2 separate regions of the Homo sapiens genome follow, and region 2 is linked to region 1. Evidence: fine-mapped expression QTL. A gene starts in region 1. The other region holds a variant in brackets. All regions are shown on one strand. Distances are from middle to middle.

Region 1 (8,336 bases):
TTGAAATAGTTAGGTATATCTTTGCCTTCTTAGCTGGAAATCACATTCCTTGAAGGCAGAGTTTGTGTTTGCTGCAATGAATCTTTCACAGTGTCCAGCATATGAAATCCCTTGTATCTTATATTAGTTTAAACATTTATTGTATTAGTAAAAAAACATATTTACTAATTATTTGAGGGTAGTGGGTGCTTAATCAATGCTTATTTAACCAAATTTTTTTGTACCTAATTTTTTGTGACTTGTGTGCATTTTTTTTATGACCGTGGATGTAGCTGGAAAAGCAAATCAGTTGCCTACTTAAAATACTTCATTAATTGCCTCTTACTTCTAGAACAAGACGTCAAATTACTTCCCTGGCACACAGTGCTCTCCATATTTGAGTGTGGTCTCAGAGCCTGGCCCCTCAAAGACATCCTAGCCTTTTTTTTTTTTTTTTTTGAGATGGAGTCTTACTCTGCCACCCAGGCTGGAGTGCAGTGGCATGATCTTGGCTCACTGCAACCTCTGCTTCCCGGGTTCAAGTGATTCTCCTGCCTCAGCCTCCCAAGTAGCTGGGATTACAGGCACCCACCACCATGCCTGGCTAATTTTTGTATTTTTAGTAGAGATAGGGTTTCGCCATGTTGACCAGGCTGGTCTTGAACTCCTGACCTCAGGTGATCTGCCCGCCTTGGCCTCCCAAAGTATTGGGATTACAGGCGTGAACTACCACGCCCATCCTGGGCTTTGGATTGTATACCTGCCTATTGTCCTGGCTACCTGACTACCCTTCCTTGTCCTTACTGAGAATTCCAATGTACCCTCGAGAGACTCCCCAATCCTTTCTCTTTTAAGGGCAAGGACTTTATTTCTATCTCTATATTTATCATCCAGAAGCTGCTCATTTGTAATGGGTGATCAGAAAAACATCTGTTGAGTTGAATAAATGTGTACTTGTGACTGGAAATTATTTACATAATACCATGTGTATAATTTAACTGCCTGATATTTGAAAATGCAAATGTATTTGTTATTTGAGATTACTTAAAATATGTGACCCTTCAAAAGGAGCTAGCTTTAATATTTGGGAGGAGTAATGCTTCTTGAAAGATATTCCCTTTAAAGGCCTATGAGTCTCCTATGACTTGCCTATCAAATGCCAGCTTTATGACACTAGCATCTGAATAAAGTGCAAATAACACCATTAAAAAGGTCCTTGCAGTTGGCAAGTGGTGATTCATTTAGATGGGTCATCATGTTTTTAATTAACTCTTTCTTAGTATGCAATAATGAAAAGTGCTTAGAGTGGTCATAGGCCTGAGGACATCCCCCAAGTTGCTAGTCGAGGAACAGTATTTTGTTGCAAGCTGAATGGGCCACCAGTTTGAGCAGGGGGATTTTTCAGCTTCAATGATCTCACAGTATAGGCATTCTGATTGAGGTTATTATTTCCTACAATTGTTTTCTAAAGAATGATTTTTAAAATGCAGATTATACATTGATGTAATTTGGGCTTAAGTTTACAGTAAATTAGCCAGGCCAAAACAAGGTAGCAGTAAGAAAACTTCCCAGGAAACCTAGTACTTTTGAATGAGAATAAAGAAAAAATAATTAGTCACAAGATTTTAGCTAAATGAGTGCTTTAAAAATAATATAATTTAGTTAACACTTATTTTTCTTTAGCATAATCTTCTTGGTTATAATAGTTTTTACCAAAAGGAAAGAAGGCAGATGCTTTTTTAAAATATAGATATCTTCAGATAAATTCCTAAGAAAACTTCAGGAAGAAATCATGGCAGTTTAGCATGAATTACGTTGGTCTGAAATTGTGTCATTCACACAGAACTGTAGTGCTCTCCTTGATATCAGATCAACATGTTTAGTACTTGGCAGAAAAAAAGAAAGTGAATGATTAGAGTGGTGTTAGTCCATTTGTACTGGAATACAAAGAAGAATAAGGACAGATGGACAGAAACAAACCTAATCCAGTATAAAGGTAACAATAAAATAAAGGGAAAAGTAAAAGATAATTTGTTTTTAGATTAAAGGAATTTAAATTTAATATATGTGGTAAGTAGAAATTATCTTCTCACCATATTTTCTCTCATTCAACTAATAATTATTGCCAGGGAACGCAATGTTTTGAGCTGCAGACGGTGGTAGCCATATAAAAACGTATAAAACATACTGCCATACCTTGAAGGCCTCTTATAGCTGAGAAGGTAAGATTTAAAGGATGAAAAGAGCTTAAAGGAATAATTAATAACTAATATTTGCATAGCATTCAAAAGTTTAGAAGGTATTTTTACATACCATTTTGTAAGTTTAAAAGTAAATTGCTAGATTTCATTCTTCTGTTAGAATTTCCTTTGGCTTTGTCTTTGGAAAACAACATTAAATTTGGGATTGCGATTACTTCTTAGATTTACTTCAGTTTTCTCAACCATTCTTAGGGGTTCTATTCCCTGATCCTTCCAATTTCTATGATTTGTCATCTCATCATTACCTCAATGGATAATGCCTCTGAATTTGCAAAGTGAATTTAACTTTTAAACTTGTAAAATACGTACATTAATTATGGCAATAACTGATGCTAGAATTTTTTTTTTTTTTTTTTTTGAGACAGGGTCTCACTCTGTCATCCAGGCTGGGTGGAGTGCAGTGGCAGGATCACAGTTCACTGCAGCCTCGACGGCCCTGGACTCAGGTGATCCTCTCACTTCCGCCTCCCAAGTAGTTGAGACCGCAGGCCTGTGCCACCATACCTGGGCTAATTTTTGTATTTTTTTTTTTTTTTTTTTTGTAGAGATGGAGTCTTGCTATGTTGCCCAGGCTGGTCTCAAACTCCTGGGTTCAAGTGCTCCTCCTCCCTTGGCCTCCCAAATTGCTGGGATTACAAGTGTGAAGATCCTGGAATTTCTAGGACATAAATGATTGTAAATGTTTTATCTTGTTGTCAGATCATGTGACCTGACTTCTCAGAAAATATCTACCTTATCTGTGGCCTCCACTTCCTTATCATTCAATTGATAAAACCTTTAATCTGAATTTTCTATTATATATATATTCTGAATATGTAGTTATATATTATATATTCTATTATATATATTCTGAAATTATATTTTCAAAGATGCCCTTATTATCAAATCTGATAGTCTTTATTCCCCCTTCTGTTTTACTTAACTTCTTTTCCATTCTATTCATTGGCCTTTCTTCTTTAAATATTAAGGATTCTAGAGACCTAGAAATTTAGTCTCTAGAAACTTAAGGGCTCTGGGCCTTGAATTTACTACCTATGTATGTGCTTCCAATAGCTTATATTTTTGTCTCCTTTCATGAATCCTTCTTAGCCCATCACCAGCCTCATTCTTCCAAATCGTAAATGGCCTTCCTTATGGGCTGCTTGAGCCACACACATTTCTTAAAGGCTCAGAAATACTCTGTTTGCATATCCACTTCCATTCCTCAGTTCTAGGACTCCTCCAGACTGAATTATTGCCTTCCCCAAGCTTTCGTTCAACTCATACCTTCTCTTTACAGCTTGCTTTGCCCACAGTAATTTATTTTCCTTTAAATTCTCAAGCATTTGACCCTCACTACCTCATACTGTTAATTAACTTTGTGTTCGTATCTCACCCCCCTAGAAGAATGCAAAATCTCTGAGGATTAGCGCTGTACTTTAGCTTTTTATTTTTTTGCTTGGTAGGGGACAACGAACATAATGCTGAACACATATTTGTTACCTAAAAAAGGCACATGTTCCATGATGTCAATGTAATCTTGTTTAGGTGAGTATATTCAACTTTTTTCTTTTATCCTTTTTGGCTGCTGTTTGTGAGTTTGATCATTCTTGTTATAAAATTACCACATGTAACCTTTTGAGAAGCATTAGAAGAATTAAAAGATGGCAAAAGCAGGCCTATAGGAAATAGTGGTAATGGATACGTCCAAGGTTACTACTATGGGCCACTGTGCTCTGCATTGCAAGATTTGTTTGAACATACTCAAGAAATTGAAGTTCAGACAGGTTAATTTATCCAAGGTCCCACAAAAAGTAAATGGCTGTGCTGAGTTTCAAGGACCCATGTCTGCCTGGATCCAAAGGGCAAGTCAGTTTCAGTGCTGGATGACTGAGAATTACAAAATTTCTTGAAAAAGCACTAGGCACAATAGTTGGCGTTCAACAAACGCTCACACACACATCTGCCCTGGAATTGGGTCTACTTAAACAGAAGGGGGAAAAAAAGCTTGCTGAAATAATTATACTTCTTCGTAACTACCAAGCTCATGTTTGACTGACTATAGTAATCCTATGCCCTCCTTCACATTGACGCTAGAAAAAATGCCTGGCAGTATTTCAAATCATGATGCCTATTTTTCTCTCGATCAAGTAACAACTCAAATTATACTTTAAAAAGAAAAAAAGCAAATTATAAAGTTGCATTCAGCTGACAAGAGACTAAAGGAATCTGTGAAACAGAATTTATTTGATGCCTAGGTTTCTCCCTCACCCGACGAAGACCAAATGCTGCTGATCCGTAAGTAACTTCGCAAGGTAAACTGAGGGGCCTGGCAGCATCTGGGCCTCCCTTAAAGGTCGAAATCAAGTGCGCTCGCCCTCCTTCTGTCCGCCTTTTCCCTTTAAGGTCCTCGAGGCTGCTTCGCTGCAGAAAGTAACTCCGCGTCGCCGCCGCGGAAAGTGGGGCAACTTTGCCTATCAGCAGAAACCTTTTGATCCATCTGAGGCGACAAACCAGACCAAACGCCCGCCCAAGCTGTTCCGAGCCTCCGGGGGGAGAGCGAGCCCAAGCTCCTCTGCACCGCTTCCTCATCCGCTCGCTGCACCTGGACGCGGTCGGCGCGCGACCCCCGGCCGTGACGTCACCGCACCTGGCAGCAGCCGTGGGGACCGGGAGAGAGCCCGAACGCGACGGGGCGGGGTGGGGCGGGGAGAACGAGGGCGTTCTCGCGAGATTTGCCTCCTCCCGGTCCCAGCTCCCCGCACCTTCTCGGCCTCTGTCTGGGTCCCCACCTTAGTCTACGGTGTCGCCTTTTCTAACTGCGAGTGCTAAGGAAGAGGCGAGGGGCGGGCTCCGAGGCTAGGCGGGCGCTCGGGGTTGGAGCCGAGGGTCTGGGCAAACCGGTGGGTCCCTCCCCACTGCGGGAGCGGCCAGGGTGGGAAAACCGCGGTCGGGCGGGCGGGGTAGGGCCCTCCCGCCGCCGTGGCTCCTGGGGAGGCCAGGGGTGAGGAGCTGTCGCCGCCTTTGCCTCTGCCTCGAGGGCCGCGCTGAAGAGACTGGTAGGAGAGCGCCGCGGGCGGATGGAGGCGACTCTTCGCCCCGCCTGAGCTCAGGAGGGGCTAGCGCGGAGCGCGGGTCCCGCCTCCAGCCGCGGGAGCGGCCGCGCGAGCCACCACTGGAGGAGGAGGAGGAGGAGCGGACGTCGGCTTCTCCCCGCGGGAGCCCCCAGCATGGGTAAGAGACTCGGGCGCTTCCCGCCGCCCGTCCGGACCTTCCAGACCCGGGGAGGCTGTGCCCTTTCTCGGCCTTCTGGGGAGGCGACTGCGGTCAGCCCCTGAGCGGCAGCACCCCACCCTCTCCATTCTCCCCACCGCCCCTTCTTGCCCTGCCTTCCACCTTGCTCTTCTCACGGAGAAACTGGTGGGAGAGCTCGCGGGTGCTTTCCCTCGCTCTCCCTTCTCCGCCTCTTTTCCTGTTCACCAGAAAGGTGCGGGATGGGGGGCGGGGGCGCCTGGCCACCTCTGCTAACCCCTTGCCCAGCTAAAATCAGACCTGACCTTCCTTCCCTTCCTCATCCCCTTGCTTCCCTCCCCCTCCTCGTGGGATGGGGGAGGGCGATCGAAAAACTTGATAAAGTAGCACTTTCAACTTCTTTATTTTCTGCGAGGCTTTGAATACGTTTAAGGAGAGAGATAAATTTGTTCAAAAACTTTTTTTTTTTCCTGCTGAAACTCGCAAGGGGTGCCTCAAGGACAGGAAAGCTTGAGTATTTGTTTTACTCGGGTTCTACCTAGGCAAGTGTGTTGGCACCTAAGCATTCAGTGTGCTCCCGAGGACTGGGTTTGGACTTCAGTGTTGGATCCTTTGAGGAGCAGTTTCCTGTTTGGAGTTAGACTTCCTTGCCGGAGGAGAGAAAAATACAAGGCCTTATATGTTATTTACTATGTGCTTTATAGTTTTGTTTGAAGTTAGAGAAGGCAGAATGTGTGGCAGTCCGGGTTGAAAAGGAGTTTTGTTAAGTGGTGTAACAATTTCTTTTGATAACAAAGTTCGGTGTGGGCTAGGCATTAAACTAACTCCCTCAATCCTTTAAAAATTAAAAGCAACTTAAGAATAGCTTACAAAAAACAAAACACCCTGTGTCTCTATAAGGCAGAACGTGTTCTGTAAGAGTAAACCCAAGTTTGATTTTTGTAGAGCAAATCAGGAGGACCCTATCACTTTTTGCAGTTGAGAGTTGGTACTGCTTCATATCAACAAACGATCACCGAAATGAATAATTCATGTAATTAACAAATGATTTAGAAGCAGGACGAATACAGACTACTGCTGATGTGGCACCCTCTGTCCACACTTTGCTTTGTGGGGGATGTTTTGAGCATATTGTTTATAGACACTCGCCTAGCTATCCTCTGTTTTCTTAGACTTTTCTAATTTTATGTTCCCTTCTCCACCTCCCTCCTTTCAGGTAACTTTCATACTCAAAAGTGCTCTTGAGCTCAAAAACAGTGAAATAAAACATTTGCTATTTGGAATTTTCAAATGAATTATTTTATAATTGATTAGTTGAGCTTGCAGGGCAATTGTGGGCATATTCTTTTAAGTATGAAATTATAAAATCACTTTAACTGCTTTGGATTAAGATAATACTAAAGTTAATTACACAGTTCTTTTCTGTCTTAAATGGGATGCAGAATAAAATTAAACTACTTTGGATGACCTGGGGATGCAGTCTTGTTTTGCATATAGGGCTTTTGAGCTAAATTCTAAATAATATTTGTTCGCATTTTGAAATTATTTAAATACTTTTTTTTTTTGCTTTGCTTTTGGATGTGCTTGTAACTGATTAGTGTCCCCCATCATCTTTCCTTTTCTAATTTTTTTTTAGAAGTGTGGAAATCATATTCAGGTTTGTGATTCTGCATAGGGGAAAAATCAGTAGGCCGTTACTTAGTGTGTGAGGTCGTCTCTGGAGAAAAGTAAATGTGTACCAATACTTGGACATTGGAATACCTATTTTGATTGTCCAGAGGCTTTTTCTTTGTGATTTATTTGTTGTGTTCTGTTTAGGTGAGTTTTCATATAGACTTGGATATCAATGTTGGTATACTCTCGACTACTTAGAATGTGTTTTGAAGGTATGTTACTGAGGGCATTTGTGGTTAAGTTTTTGTAAAGTGTTTGTGAAACATTTCCATATCAATATATATATTCTTTAAGTTTATTGGTCATGTAATAATAAAATTCCCAAGTTCACTTAAAGGGAGTTTGCTCTTTAATATAAATCTCATTTATTTGGTTTTACCAGCCATCCTTTTTTCTTATGATTTTAGATGCAGCCTAAAATATTTACATGATATTTTATCTAATTTGTCACAAAATGAAAAAATCTGAAATTTTTTTTGTGTGTAAGATAATTTGGATGCCTATTAAATGGTGGTTCTTAAGTTTAGGTGGTACAGCTAGAGAGTTAAAAGCATGGGCTCTGGACAGAGACTACTTGAGGTCAAATTCTCTTCTACCTACTGGCTGTGTGACTGAGCACATTACTTCTCTGTGCTTCAGTTTCTCAATCTATAAATGGAATAAAATATCAACCTCATAGGTTGTTAGGAGGATTGAATGAGTTACTACTTGTAAAGTGCTTAGAACACTGCCAGTGCTGGCGGTGGTGATTTTCATTTTCAAATGATTTCCCTAATTCTTGTACCAACTTGGGAAAAAAAAAATCTCAATTTTTGACCTTTGTTAGAAGTAGGATATTTTCTTTAAATAAAGGACCAGAGGGATGAGATGATTTTGCACTAAGGCAGAAATTGAATTTTATGTGATATAACCTTACAGAAACCACATAGATACTTTTTTCAATGTTGGATGTACTGTGCGAAAGTCCATTATTGGTAAGAGCTTTAGTTGCTTAGGAAAAACTCTTAAGTGGGATGACTACTAGTAGACTTATTTGAAGTTTATGTTTTTAGTGTCTACATTTGTTAAATGTGATAAAATGCCTATTGAGAAGTTTGAGGTATTCTGTGTGAAAGAATTTGGGAAGAGCTCTAGGGAGACAGATAGGCAGTGCTTATTTTTCTTATTCCAAAAATACAGATCGGCATTTTG
Region 2 (8,336 bases), 34 kb before region 1:
CAGGGTCCAGGAGAAGTCAGTTAACACCAGATCATAACTGTAGCATTTCTTTTGTTTCTGAAAAACTCTCAGATGTTGTGACTTTGCATGATAAGAGGAAGCTGCAAGAAGAAGTCTTGTGCTGGGGAAATAGAAATAGACCACAAGAAATGCTTACTGTCTCAATTAGCGTCAGCTGTCCCAACGCTGACCTAAAAGGAGCCCAATATTAGTCTATTAGGAGACAGGCATGGGGCCGGCCCTCTCTGGCCAAGAATGGATACTATGAAATAAATGTCTGGAACCATTGCACTTCTCTTCTCCCAGATGTCACACCCGCTTCTTGGCAGTCAGGGCTTTGAGCTCATCACATTTGGGTCTGGCCTCATGTGGAAGATGTAATAATACCTACGAAGGACTTTAGGCAAAACATTCTATTTTCAGAATAATAGAAAAGTTCTGATTTGAATGCTGTATGCTAGTTTCTAAATTAGGCATTTTGCACAAAGATATCTAAAAGTCAGCACTAGTCAATTGTGACAGAGTAGGCTTCTGGAAAAATAGAGAAGCAACTTCACTTCTGAGTTGAAAACTTAATTTTTTATATATAGGTATTCCTGCCCTACCTGCCTAGTTTCCTTAAAAAGAAACACATTTCCACTTCATAGCTTCCTTTACCCAACTCTCCGCTTTTCCCTTCTTTAAAATAATGACAACACTATGTGAAATGTGATTTGTTGTCAAAAAGGTGGATGAACAGTTGATTCTTCAAAATATTCATTATACCCTTTACTATGCCCTAACTCTGTGCGGGACATTGGCAAACACTGGGACTGCAATCTGCAAGGATTCTGTAGGCCCTGCCCTTCTGAAATTTAGTTCCCAGAATATTGTTTCTCTACCATTTTTTCATTATTGCCCCCTAAGAAACATTTTTAGACACTCCTTTCCTAACTGCTCCACCATGGAATTTTGATACCACAGATATCGTGTATATATTTATGTACTGTGTCTATATCCATGCATTATACACAGAAATATCAATGGCTTTTTGCTCCCAAGAATCAACTTTCACTCCCTCAGGGGTAATGTTATCCCTGTTAAAAGTGTATATTCTATGGCAGGGCGTGGTGGCTCATGCCTGTGACCCCAGCACTTTGGGAGGCCGAGGCGGGCAGATCACCTGAGGTCAGGAGTTCGAGACCAGCCTGGCTAACATGGTGAAAACCCGGCTCTACTAAAAGTACAAAAATTAGCCGGGCGTGTTGGCACATGCCAGTAGTCCCAGCTACTCTGGAGGCTGAGGCACAAGAATTGCTTGAACCTGGGATGTGGAGGTTGCAGTGAACCAAGATTGCACCACTGCACTCCAGCCTGGGCAACAGAGTGAGACTCTGTCTCAAAAAAAAAAAAAAAAAAAAAGAAAAGAAAAGAAAAAAAATGTGTATGTTCTAGGAGAAAGAAAGAGAATAGGCAAACACATAAGAAAAGTAACTGTGATGAATAAAATGTAGGAAATAAAAAGGGCTGAAAATTAGGGTACGGTTACTTTGGATAGGGATGTACAACCATACACCTGTAGGTAAGCTCCAGGAAGGATGCCCGTAGCTTCCTGGTCTCATTTTCCCTGGAGCCCAGTTAAAGTCCCCCACCTGAAATTGGAAAGGAAAAAAAAGACTAAATATAATTCACTAGAATACAAATAACTTCTGTCTTCCTGTTATTCAAACAAAGTCACATTAAGCCATGTTCCTCCTTTATACAAGCTCTACACCCTAAACAGCAGAGTTGCCAAAAGCTGGACACTCGAGGAATACAATTTTATTGGTCACGTGTTTCTGTGCAACTCTGAATGGGTCATTGTTTCTTAATAAGGATGTGAGGCTATCAAAGTTAAATTTAGCTCACCATGGTTGTGGTGGAACAAAGCCGATATATTTGCATAATGCTCTCCTACATAGGTGTGTTCCAGCAAAATAGTGAAGGCAGCATAATTGAATGCTGAAAGACAATAAAATGTTCTGGCTAAGAGCACTGGAGTCCAGACCACTGTCCACAAACAGGCAGGTCATTTAACTACTCTCTAAGGCTTAGTTTATCCATATGTAAAATGAGAATATTATACTATTATATTGTTTTTTCTTTTGTTTTTTGTTTTGAGATGGAGTCTCCCTCTGTAGTCCCGGCTGGAGTGCAGTGGCGCAATCTCAGCTCACTGCAACCTCTGCCTCCCAGGTTCCAGTGATTCTCCTGCCTCAGCCTCCTGAGTAGCTGAGATTACAGGCACATGCCACCATGCCCGGCTAATTTTTTGTATTTTTAGTTGAGACAGGCTTTCACCATGTTGGCCAGGCTGGTCTCAAACTCCTGACCTCAGGTGATCTGCCCTCCTCGGGCCCACAAAGTGCTGGGATTACAGGCGTGAACCACCGCACCCAGCCTATATTGGGTTGGGTTTTTGTTTTGGTAGTACTTTCTAGTTGTGCTATTTTTTTTAGGGTAAAAAAGGTTAAAATTTGGTTAAATCAAAGCAGGATCTCTGGTATTTAATCATGAGTAATATTTTGCCTAATATGCCTTTTAATTACACCTGGCTTTCAATTACATTTGTTGATTTTTTTTCTAAATTGATCTGTTATTTTATTTAACCCCTTTTGACTGCTAAGTTACATTTTATAAGTGTAGTTTGTACTACCCTTCATCCAGCACTATGAAATGGTGATTTTTTTTTTTTTTTAGAGTTAGTGAATTAATACTAATAGTTCTGCTAACTTTGGTCCTTCCAAAGACTTATACAATTTGAATCCCATAATGTTTCAAATCCAACTCTCTGTCTCCCCAATTCCTCCCTGAATCTGTATCAGCTTTGAGATGCCTATCTTGGTTATTGGCATTGCCATCCTGATACTTTTTTTTTTTTTTTTTTGAGACCGAGTCTCACTCTATCGCCCAGGCTAGAGTGCAGTGGTGTGATCTCAGCTCACTGCAACCTCCGCCTCCAGGGTTCATGTGATTCCCATGACTCAGCCTCCCGAGTAGTTGGGATTACAAGCACCTGCCA[T/C]CATGCCCAGCTAATTTTTGTATTTTTAATAGAGACGGGTGGGCGGGGGGGCGCGGGGTTCACCATGTTGGCCAGACTGGCCTCGAACTCCTGACCTCATGGTCCACCGGCTTCAGCCTCCCAAAGTGCCAGGATTACAAGTGTGAGCCACTGTGCCCAGCCTTTTTTTTTTTTTTTTCTGAGATGGAGTCTCACTCTGTTGCCCAGGTTGGAGTACAATGGCACAATCTTGACTCACTGCAACCTCCGCCTCCTGGGTTCAAGTGATCCTCCTGCCTCAGCCTCGCGAGTAGCTGGGATTACAAACATGGACCACCAGGCCTACTAATTTTTGTATTTTTAGCAGAGATGGGGTTTCACCATCTTGGCCAGGATGGTCTCAAACTCCTGGCCTCAAGAGATCCCCCGCCTTGGCCTCTCAAAGTGCCAGGATTATAGTCATGAGCCACCGCACCCAGCACCATCCTGATAATTATCTATGCTAACCCTCAGGGTCATCACGTCTCATGCACAATCCAATTTCTCACCATGTGTACGCAATATTTCTGTCATGTGTTCCTGCCTCTCCATTCCCTTTCCAAAATCTTTCCAAGTATATTTTCTCAAGAGAGGTACTATTCCTAAATACCAAACATACACTCAAGCATAGTATAAGGGATATTTGTCATGTCTGAGGCCACCTAGCATGTTTAAACACCCTTCCTATGTTTGGAGAATTCCGCATATGATGAGCCCTTTCTCAAGGCAGAAGCTAGGACTGGCTCTCTTACCCTATCTTAGTTAGGATATAGCGATCCAGCCAGGGGCAGATTCCAGTTTTGTAGGGGTTTGACCCTAATACAATTTTGGGGCCTTCTTTTTACAAAGCAACAAAATTACAAATTTAAAATTAGGTTTAAAAATTAACTTCACAATTTGAATGAGAAAAAAAAATCAAAACTACAAATTTTAGGAGATAACCAGTACCATGAACACCACAAATCCAGAAAAACAATGTAATTTTTAAATCAATAATTTGCCTAATGTACCTCTTTAATATTTTTCTTCATTATTTTAACTACATTATTTTAACTCTTTGATTATTAATTCACATGACAATGATTTCATAATTTTTCATATTAAAATATTTTTGTAGAGAAGGGATCTCACTAGCTTGCTCAGGCCGGTCTTGAACTGCTGGCCACAAGTGATCCTCACACTTTGGCCTCCTGAAGTGTTCGGATTACAGGCATGAGCCACCACATCCAGATCTGTGATTTTTTTTTTTTTTTTTTTTTTTAGTATTTATTGATCATTCTTGGGTGTTTCTCGGAGAGGGGGATTTGGCAGGGTCATAGGACAACAGTGGAGGGAAGGTCAGCAGATAAACATGTGAACAAGGGTCTCTGGTTTTCCTAGGCAGAGGACCCTGCGGCCTTCCGCAGTGTTTGTGTCCCTGGGTACTTGAGATTAGGGAGTGGTGATGACTCTTAATGAGCATGCTGCCTTCAAGCATCTGTTTAACAAAGCACATCTTGCACCGCCCTTAATCCATTTAACCCTAAGTGGACACAGCACATGCTTCAGAGAGCACAGGGTTGGGGGTAAGGTTATAGATTAACAGCATCCCAAGACAGAATTTTTCTTAGTACAGAACAAAATGGAGTCTCCTATGTCTACTTCTTTCTACAGAGACACAGTAACAATCTGATCTCTCTTTCTTTTCCCCACATTTCCCCCTTTTCTATTCGACAAAACCGTCATCGTCATCATGGCCCTTTCTCAATGAGCTGTTGGGTACACCTCCCAGACAGGGTGGCGGCCGGGCAGAGGGGCTCCTCACTTCCCAGACGGGATGGCCAGGCAGAGGCGCCCCCCACCTCCTGGACGGGGCAGCGGCCGGGCGGGGGCTGCCCCCCACCTCCCTCCCGGACTGGGTGGCTGGCCGGGCAGGGGTTGCCCCCCACCTCCCTCCCGGACGGGCGGCTGGCTGGGGGGGGGGTGCTGCCCTCCACCTCCCGGACGGGGCGGCTGCCCGGCAAGACGCTCCTCACTTCCCAGATGGGGCGGCTGCCAGGCGGAGGGGCTCCTCACTTCTCAGACGGGGCGGCCGGGCAGAGACGCTCCTCACCTCCCAGATGGGGTGGCGGTCGGGCAGAGACACTCCTCAGATCCCAGACGGGGTCGCGGCCGGGCAGAGGCGCTTCTCACATCCCAGACAGGGCGGCGGGGCAGAGGAGCTCCCCACATCTCAGACGATGGGCGGCCTGGGCAACATTGAGCACTGAGTGAGCGAGACTCCGTCTGCAATCCTGGCACCTCGGGAGGCCCAGGCGGGCAGATCACTCGCGGTCAGGAGCTGGAGACCAGCCTGGCCAACACGGCAAAACCGCGTCTCCACCAAAAAATACAAAAACCGGTCAGGCGTGGCGGCACGCGCCTGCAATCCCAGGCACTGGGCAGGCTGAGGCAGGAGAATCAGGCAGGGAGGTTGCAGTGAGCCCAGATGGCGGCAGTACAGTCCAGCCTCGACTCGGCATCAGAGGGAGACCGTGGAAAGTGCGAGATGAGGGAGCGGCATCAGAGGGAGACCGTGGAAAGTGGGGGGAGAGGGAGAGGGAGAGGGAAAGGGAGAGGGAGACCAATTTTTTTTTTATAAAAAGAAAAAAAGTACTTTAGTCTCCTTTGTCCTATCTGGTCAATTGATTTTTTGATTGACAGTTTAGAAAAGTGTCTTTAAGCTTCACAACTGATGATTGATAATATTGTGTAAATTTAGTGAGGTTGACAGAAGTCAGAATTGCAGGTACAATATTTCTACTGCAAATTTTACAAAAACATAGGACAGACATTTATTCCTAGGGCTCTCCCAGGGCCTTGGAAAGGGTCTGCATAAGTACAGGGCCCTGAGGCTTAAGATTCATTAGCTTTGTGATACATCCATATATTAGTCCGTTTTCATGCTGCTCATAAAGACATACCTGAGACTGGATAATTTATAAAGGAAAAAGGTGTAATTGACTCACAGTTCCACATGGCTGGGGAGGCCTCACAATCATGGCGGAAGAGCAAGGGACCATCTTACATGGCGGCAGGCAAGAAAAGAGTTTGTGCAGGGAAACTTGCCCTTATAAAACCATCAGATCTCATGAGACTTACTCACTATCATGAGAACAGCATGGGAAAGACCTACCCCCATGATTCAATTACTTCCCATTGAGTTCCTCCCATGACACATGGGAATTGTTGGAGCAACAATTCAAAGTGAGATTTGGGTGGGGACAGAGCCAAACCATATCAATTCATCTCTGCATCCTCTTAGGCTTTGCCAATCAGACATGATCATAAAGTTTTCACTTCAGAACTGAACAACCCTAGGAAGCAGGAGCCCTTGTCATCTACCATTTCATAAGAATGACAAGAGAGGCACCAGCTCTGCCAGGCACCGGTGGTGAAATTTCTGGTGTTGGGTCTCCAGAGTTATTGGTGGAGGCTGTGGTGTCTGTACCATGCAGGAGCTGTAGCACCCTCTCGCCTTGAGCAGCCCTCAGAGTGTGACATGGGCATGGATGCTGGCCGCAGAGCCTCTGGACCTTACTCTCCAGACCCCTTGCAGATTCAATGAGGTACCAAATATCCTTATTAAATTCACCTTATTTTTCTGCTTAAATTAGTTATTATAGAATAGTTTCTGCTTGCAACCATGAATCCTGACTGCTACATGTGGAAGTGTGTTCTACAGGACTAAGGCAGAGGCTGAGGCATCATCAGCCTACCTGAGATGATGGAATAATTCAAGGATCGGAAAGTGAATCAAAGCAGAATGCATGGGAGAAAACAGGTGACCAAATACCAGAAAAGTAAGGATGAAAGTCAGATACATGGGCCCATTTAAAGGCAGAAGCCAGAGAGCCAAGAATCTTGATTATTGAATGCAGATGAAGGCAGAGGAGGTTCAGAAAAGGCAAAGTGGGGTAGGTCAAGACCCCATTTGGTAGGCCAGCAGTTGGGTGGTGTATATAAGGATTGAGTGGCCTTAAAAAGGAATAGAAGGCCAGGTACAGGGGCCTCACACATGTAATCACTACACTTTGGGAGGCTGGGGCAGGAGGATCACATAAGCCCAGATGTTTGAGACCAGTCTGGGCAACAAAGGGAGACCCCCATCTCTACAAAAAATTTAAACGTTAGCCAGGTGTTTTGATGCACGCTTGTAGTCCCATCTACTTGGGAGGCTGAGGTGGGAGGATCACTTGAGCCTATGAGGTGGAGGCTGCAGTAAGCCATGATCACACCATTGCACTTCAGCCTGGGTGACAGAGAGAAACCTGTCTCTAAAAAAAAATTAATTTAAATTTAAAAAAAGAGGAATAGAAGAAGGCTGGACAGTACTATAACCCAGACTGTCGTTAGCTCTCTCTTGGAACCATAAAAGCCTTCAACATTCTCCCACCTTATTCTCTGCCCTACACAGTATGTTCTTTACACACAAAAAAAGCTATCTGGGGCCATGATCATTGCCCTACTTTTGAGATATCAATTGTGACTCCCCATTGCCTAGAGAACATCACAGAATTCATTAGCCTGGCATTTCTGACCCTCCCTCATCTAGGTCAATCCATTTATCCAACATATTCCTCATTAACTTTCTCATACTATATGCTAGAGCTGCACTAAACTATTTGGTATTTCCTAGACATGCATTTCATTTTCCCACAAGCATGCTGTTCTTTCTGCCTGGGATGCTCTCCCTGTCACATTTCAGCACATCCAAATCACTCTATTTTCCAAAGCCCAGCTCAAATGTCACATTTCTTCTTCAGCAGCAGTATTTCCTCCCGGAAGCACATTAATTCTCATGTTAATTTTGCTTTCCATATTGCATTACATTTATTCAGGCACATATTTTTATTTCCTCTAAGAACCCAGAAACTCACTTTGAACAGAATCTTGGCACAGTGACTTGTATACTATACTTGCTCAAAATAGTGTTGAACAAAGGGTTGAATGAAACAATTCTTGACACATAATTTCTTGTAGAACCTAAAGTAGTTGACAGTGACCTATGGTGTGGTAAGAAAAGTACAGGCTTTGATCTCAGACACGTGGGAGCTGGAGTCACAACTTGTGCTGGCTGATGAATCTTCTGACACGTTGCTTAATCACAAAGAGGCATTGGTTAGTAAGAGATAATAATCCTTATAGCATACTATTATTTTGAGAATTAAGTAAGGTTCTAGAAGGTAACTTACAATTCCTGATACAAAAGAGATGCTAACTGAATGTTAGTGATTTTTTTCTCCCTTAGTCTTCTCCT

Direction of the effects. Alleles are on the strand shown, and positions count from the first base shown. SD is a standard deviation of normalised expression in the study named.
As copies of T replace C in region 2, the expression in iPS cells of the gene that starts at base 4,994 in region 1 goes up (moderate effect, 0.51 SD a copy in HipSci).

What was found. PIP is the estimated chance that this variant, and not a neighbour inherited with it, causes the effect. A credible set is the group of variants that fine-mapping cannot tell apart.
Region 2: its variant is the best candidate, but not a certain one, in a credible set for the expression of CD2AP in iPS cells (HipSci, PIP 0.58).

The regions. Positions count from the first base shown.
Region 1 is chr6:47,472,796-47,481,131 of GRCh38, forward strand. CD2AP (CD2 associated protein) reads left to right here and starts at 4,994. Exons shown (of 18, transcript NM_012120.3): 1 at 4,994-5,453. The coding sequence starts at 5,450. It overlaps CD2AP-DT (CD2AP divergent transcript), which reads right to left and starts at 5,277. Exons shown (of 1, transcript NR_187257.1): 1 at 4,448-5,277. RefSeq lists a silencer at 4,756-5,265 and an enhancer at 5,552-6,278.
Region 2 is chr6:47,439,052-47,447,387 of GRCh38, forward strand. No RefSeq gene overlaps it. Among named protein-coding and RNA genes, the nearest start is that of CD2AP, 35 kb to the right of the region's middle. RefSeq lists an enhancer at 4,964-5,697 and a silencer at 7,942-8,236. The variant T/C (reference allele first, on the strand shown) is at 3,041.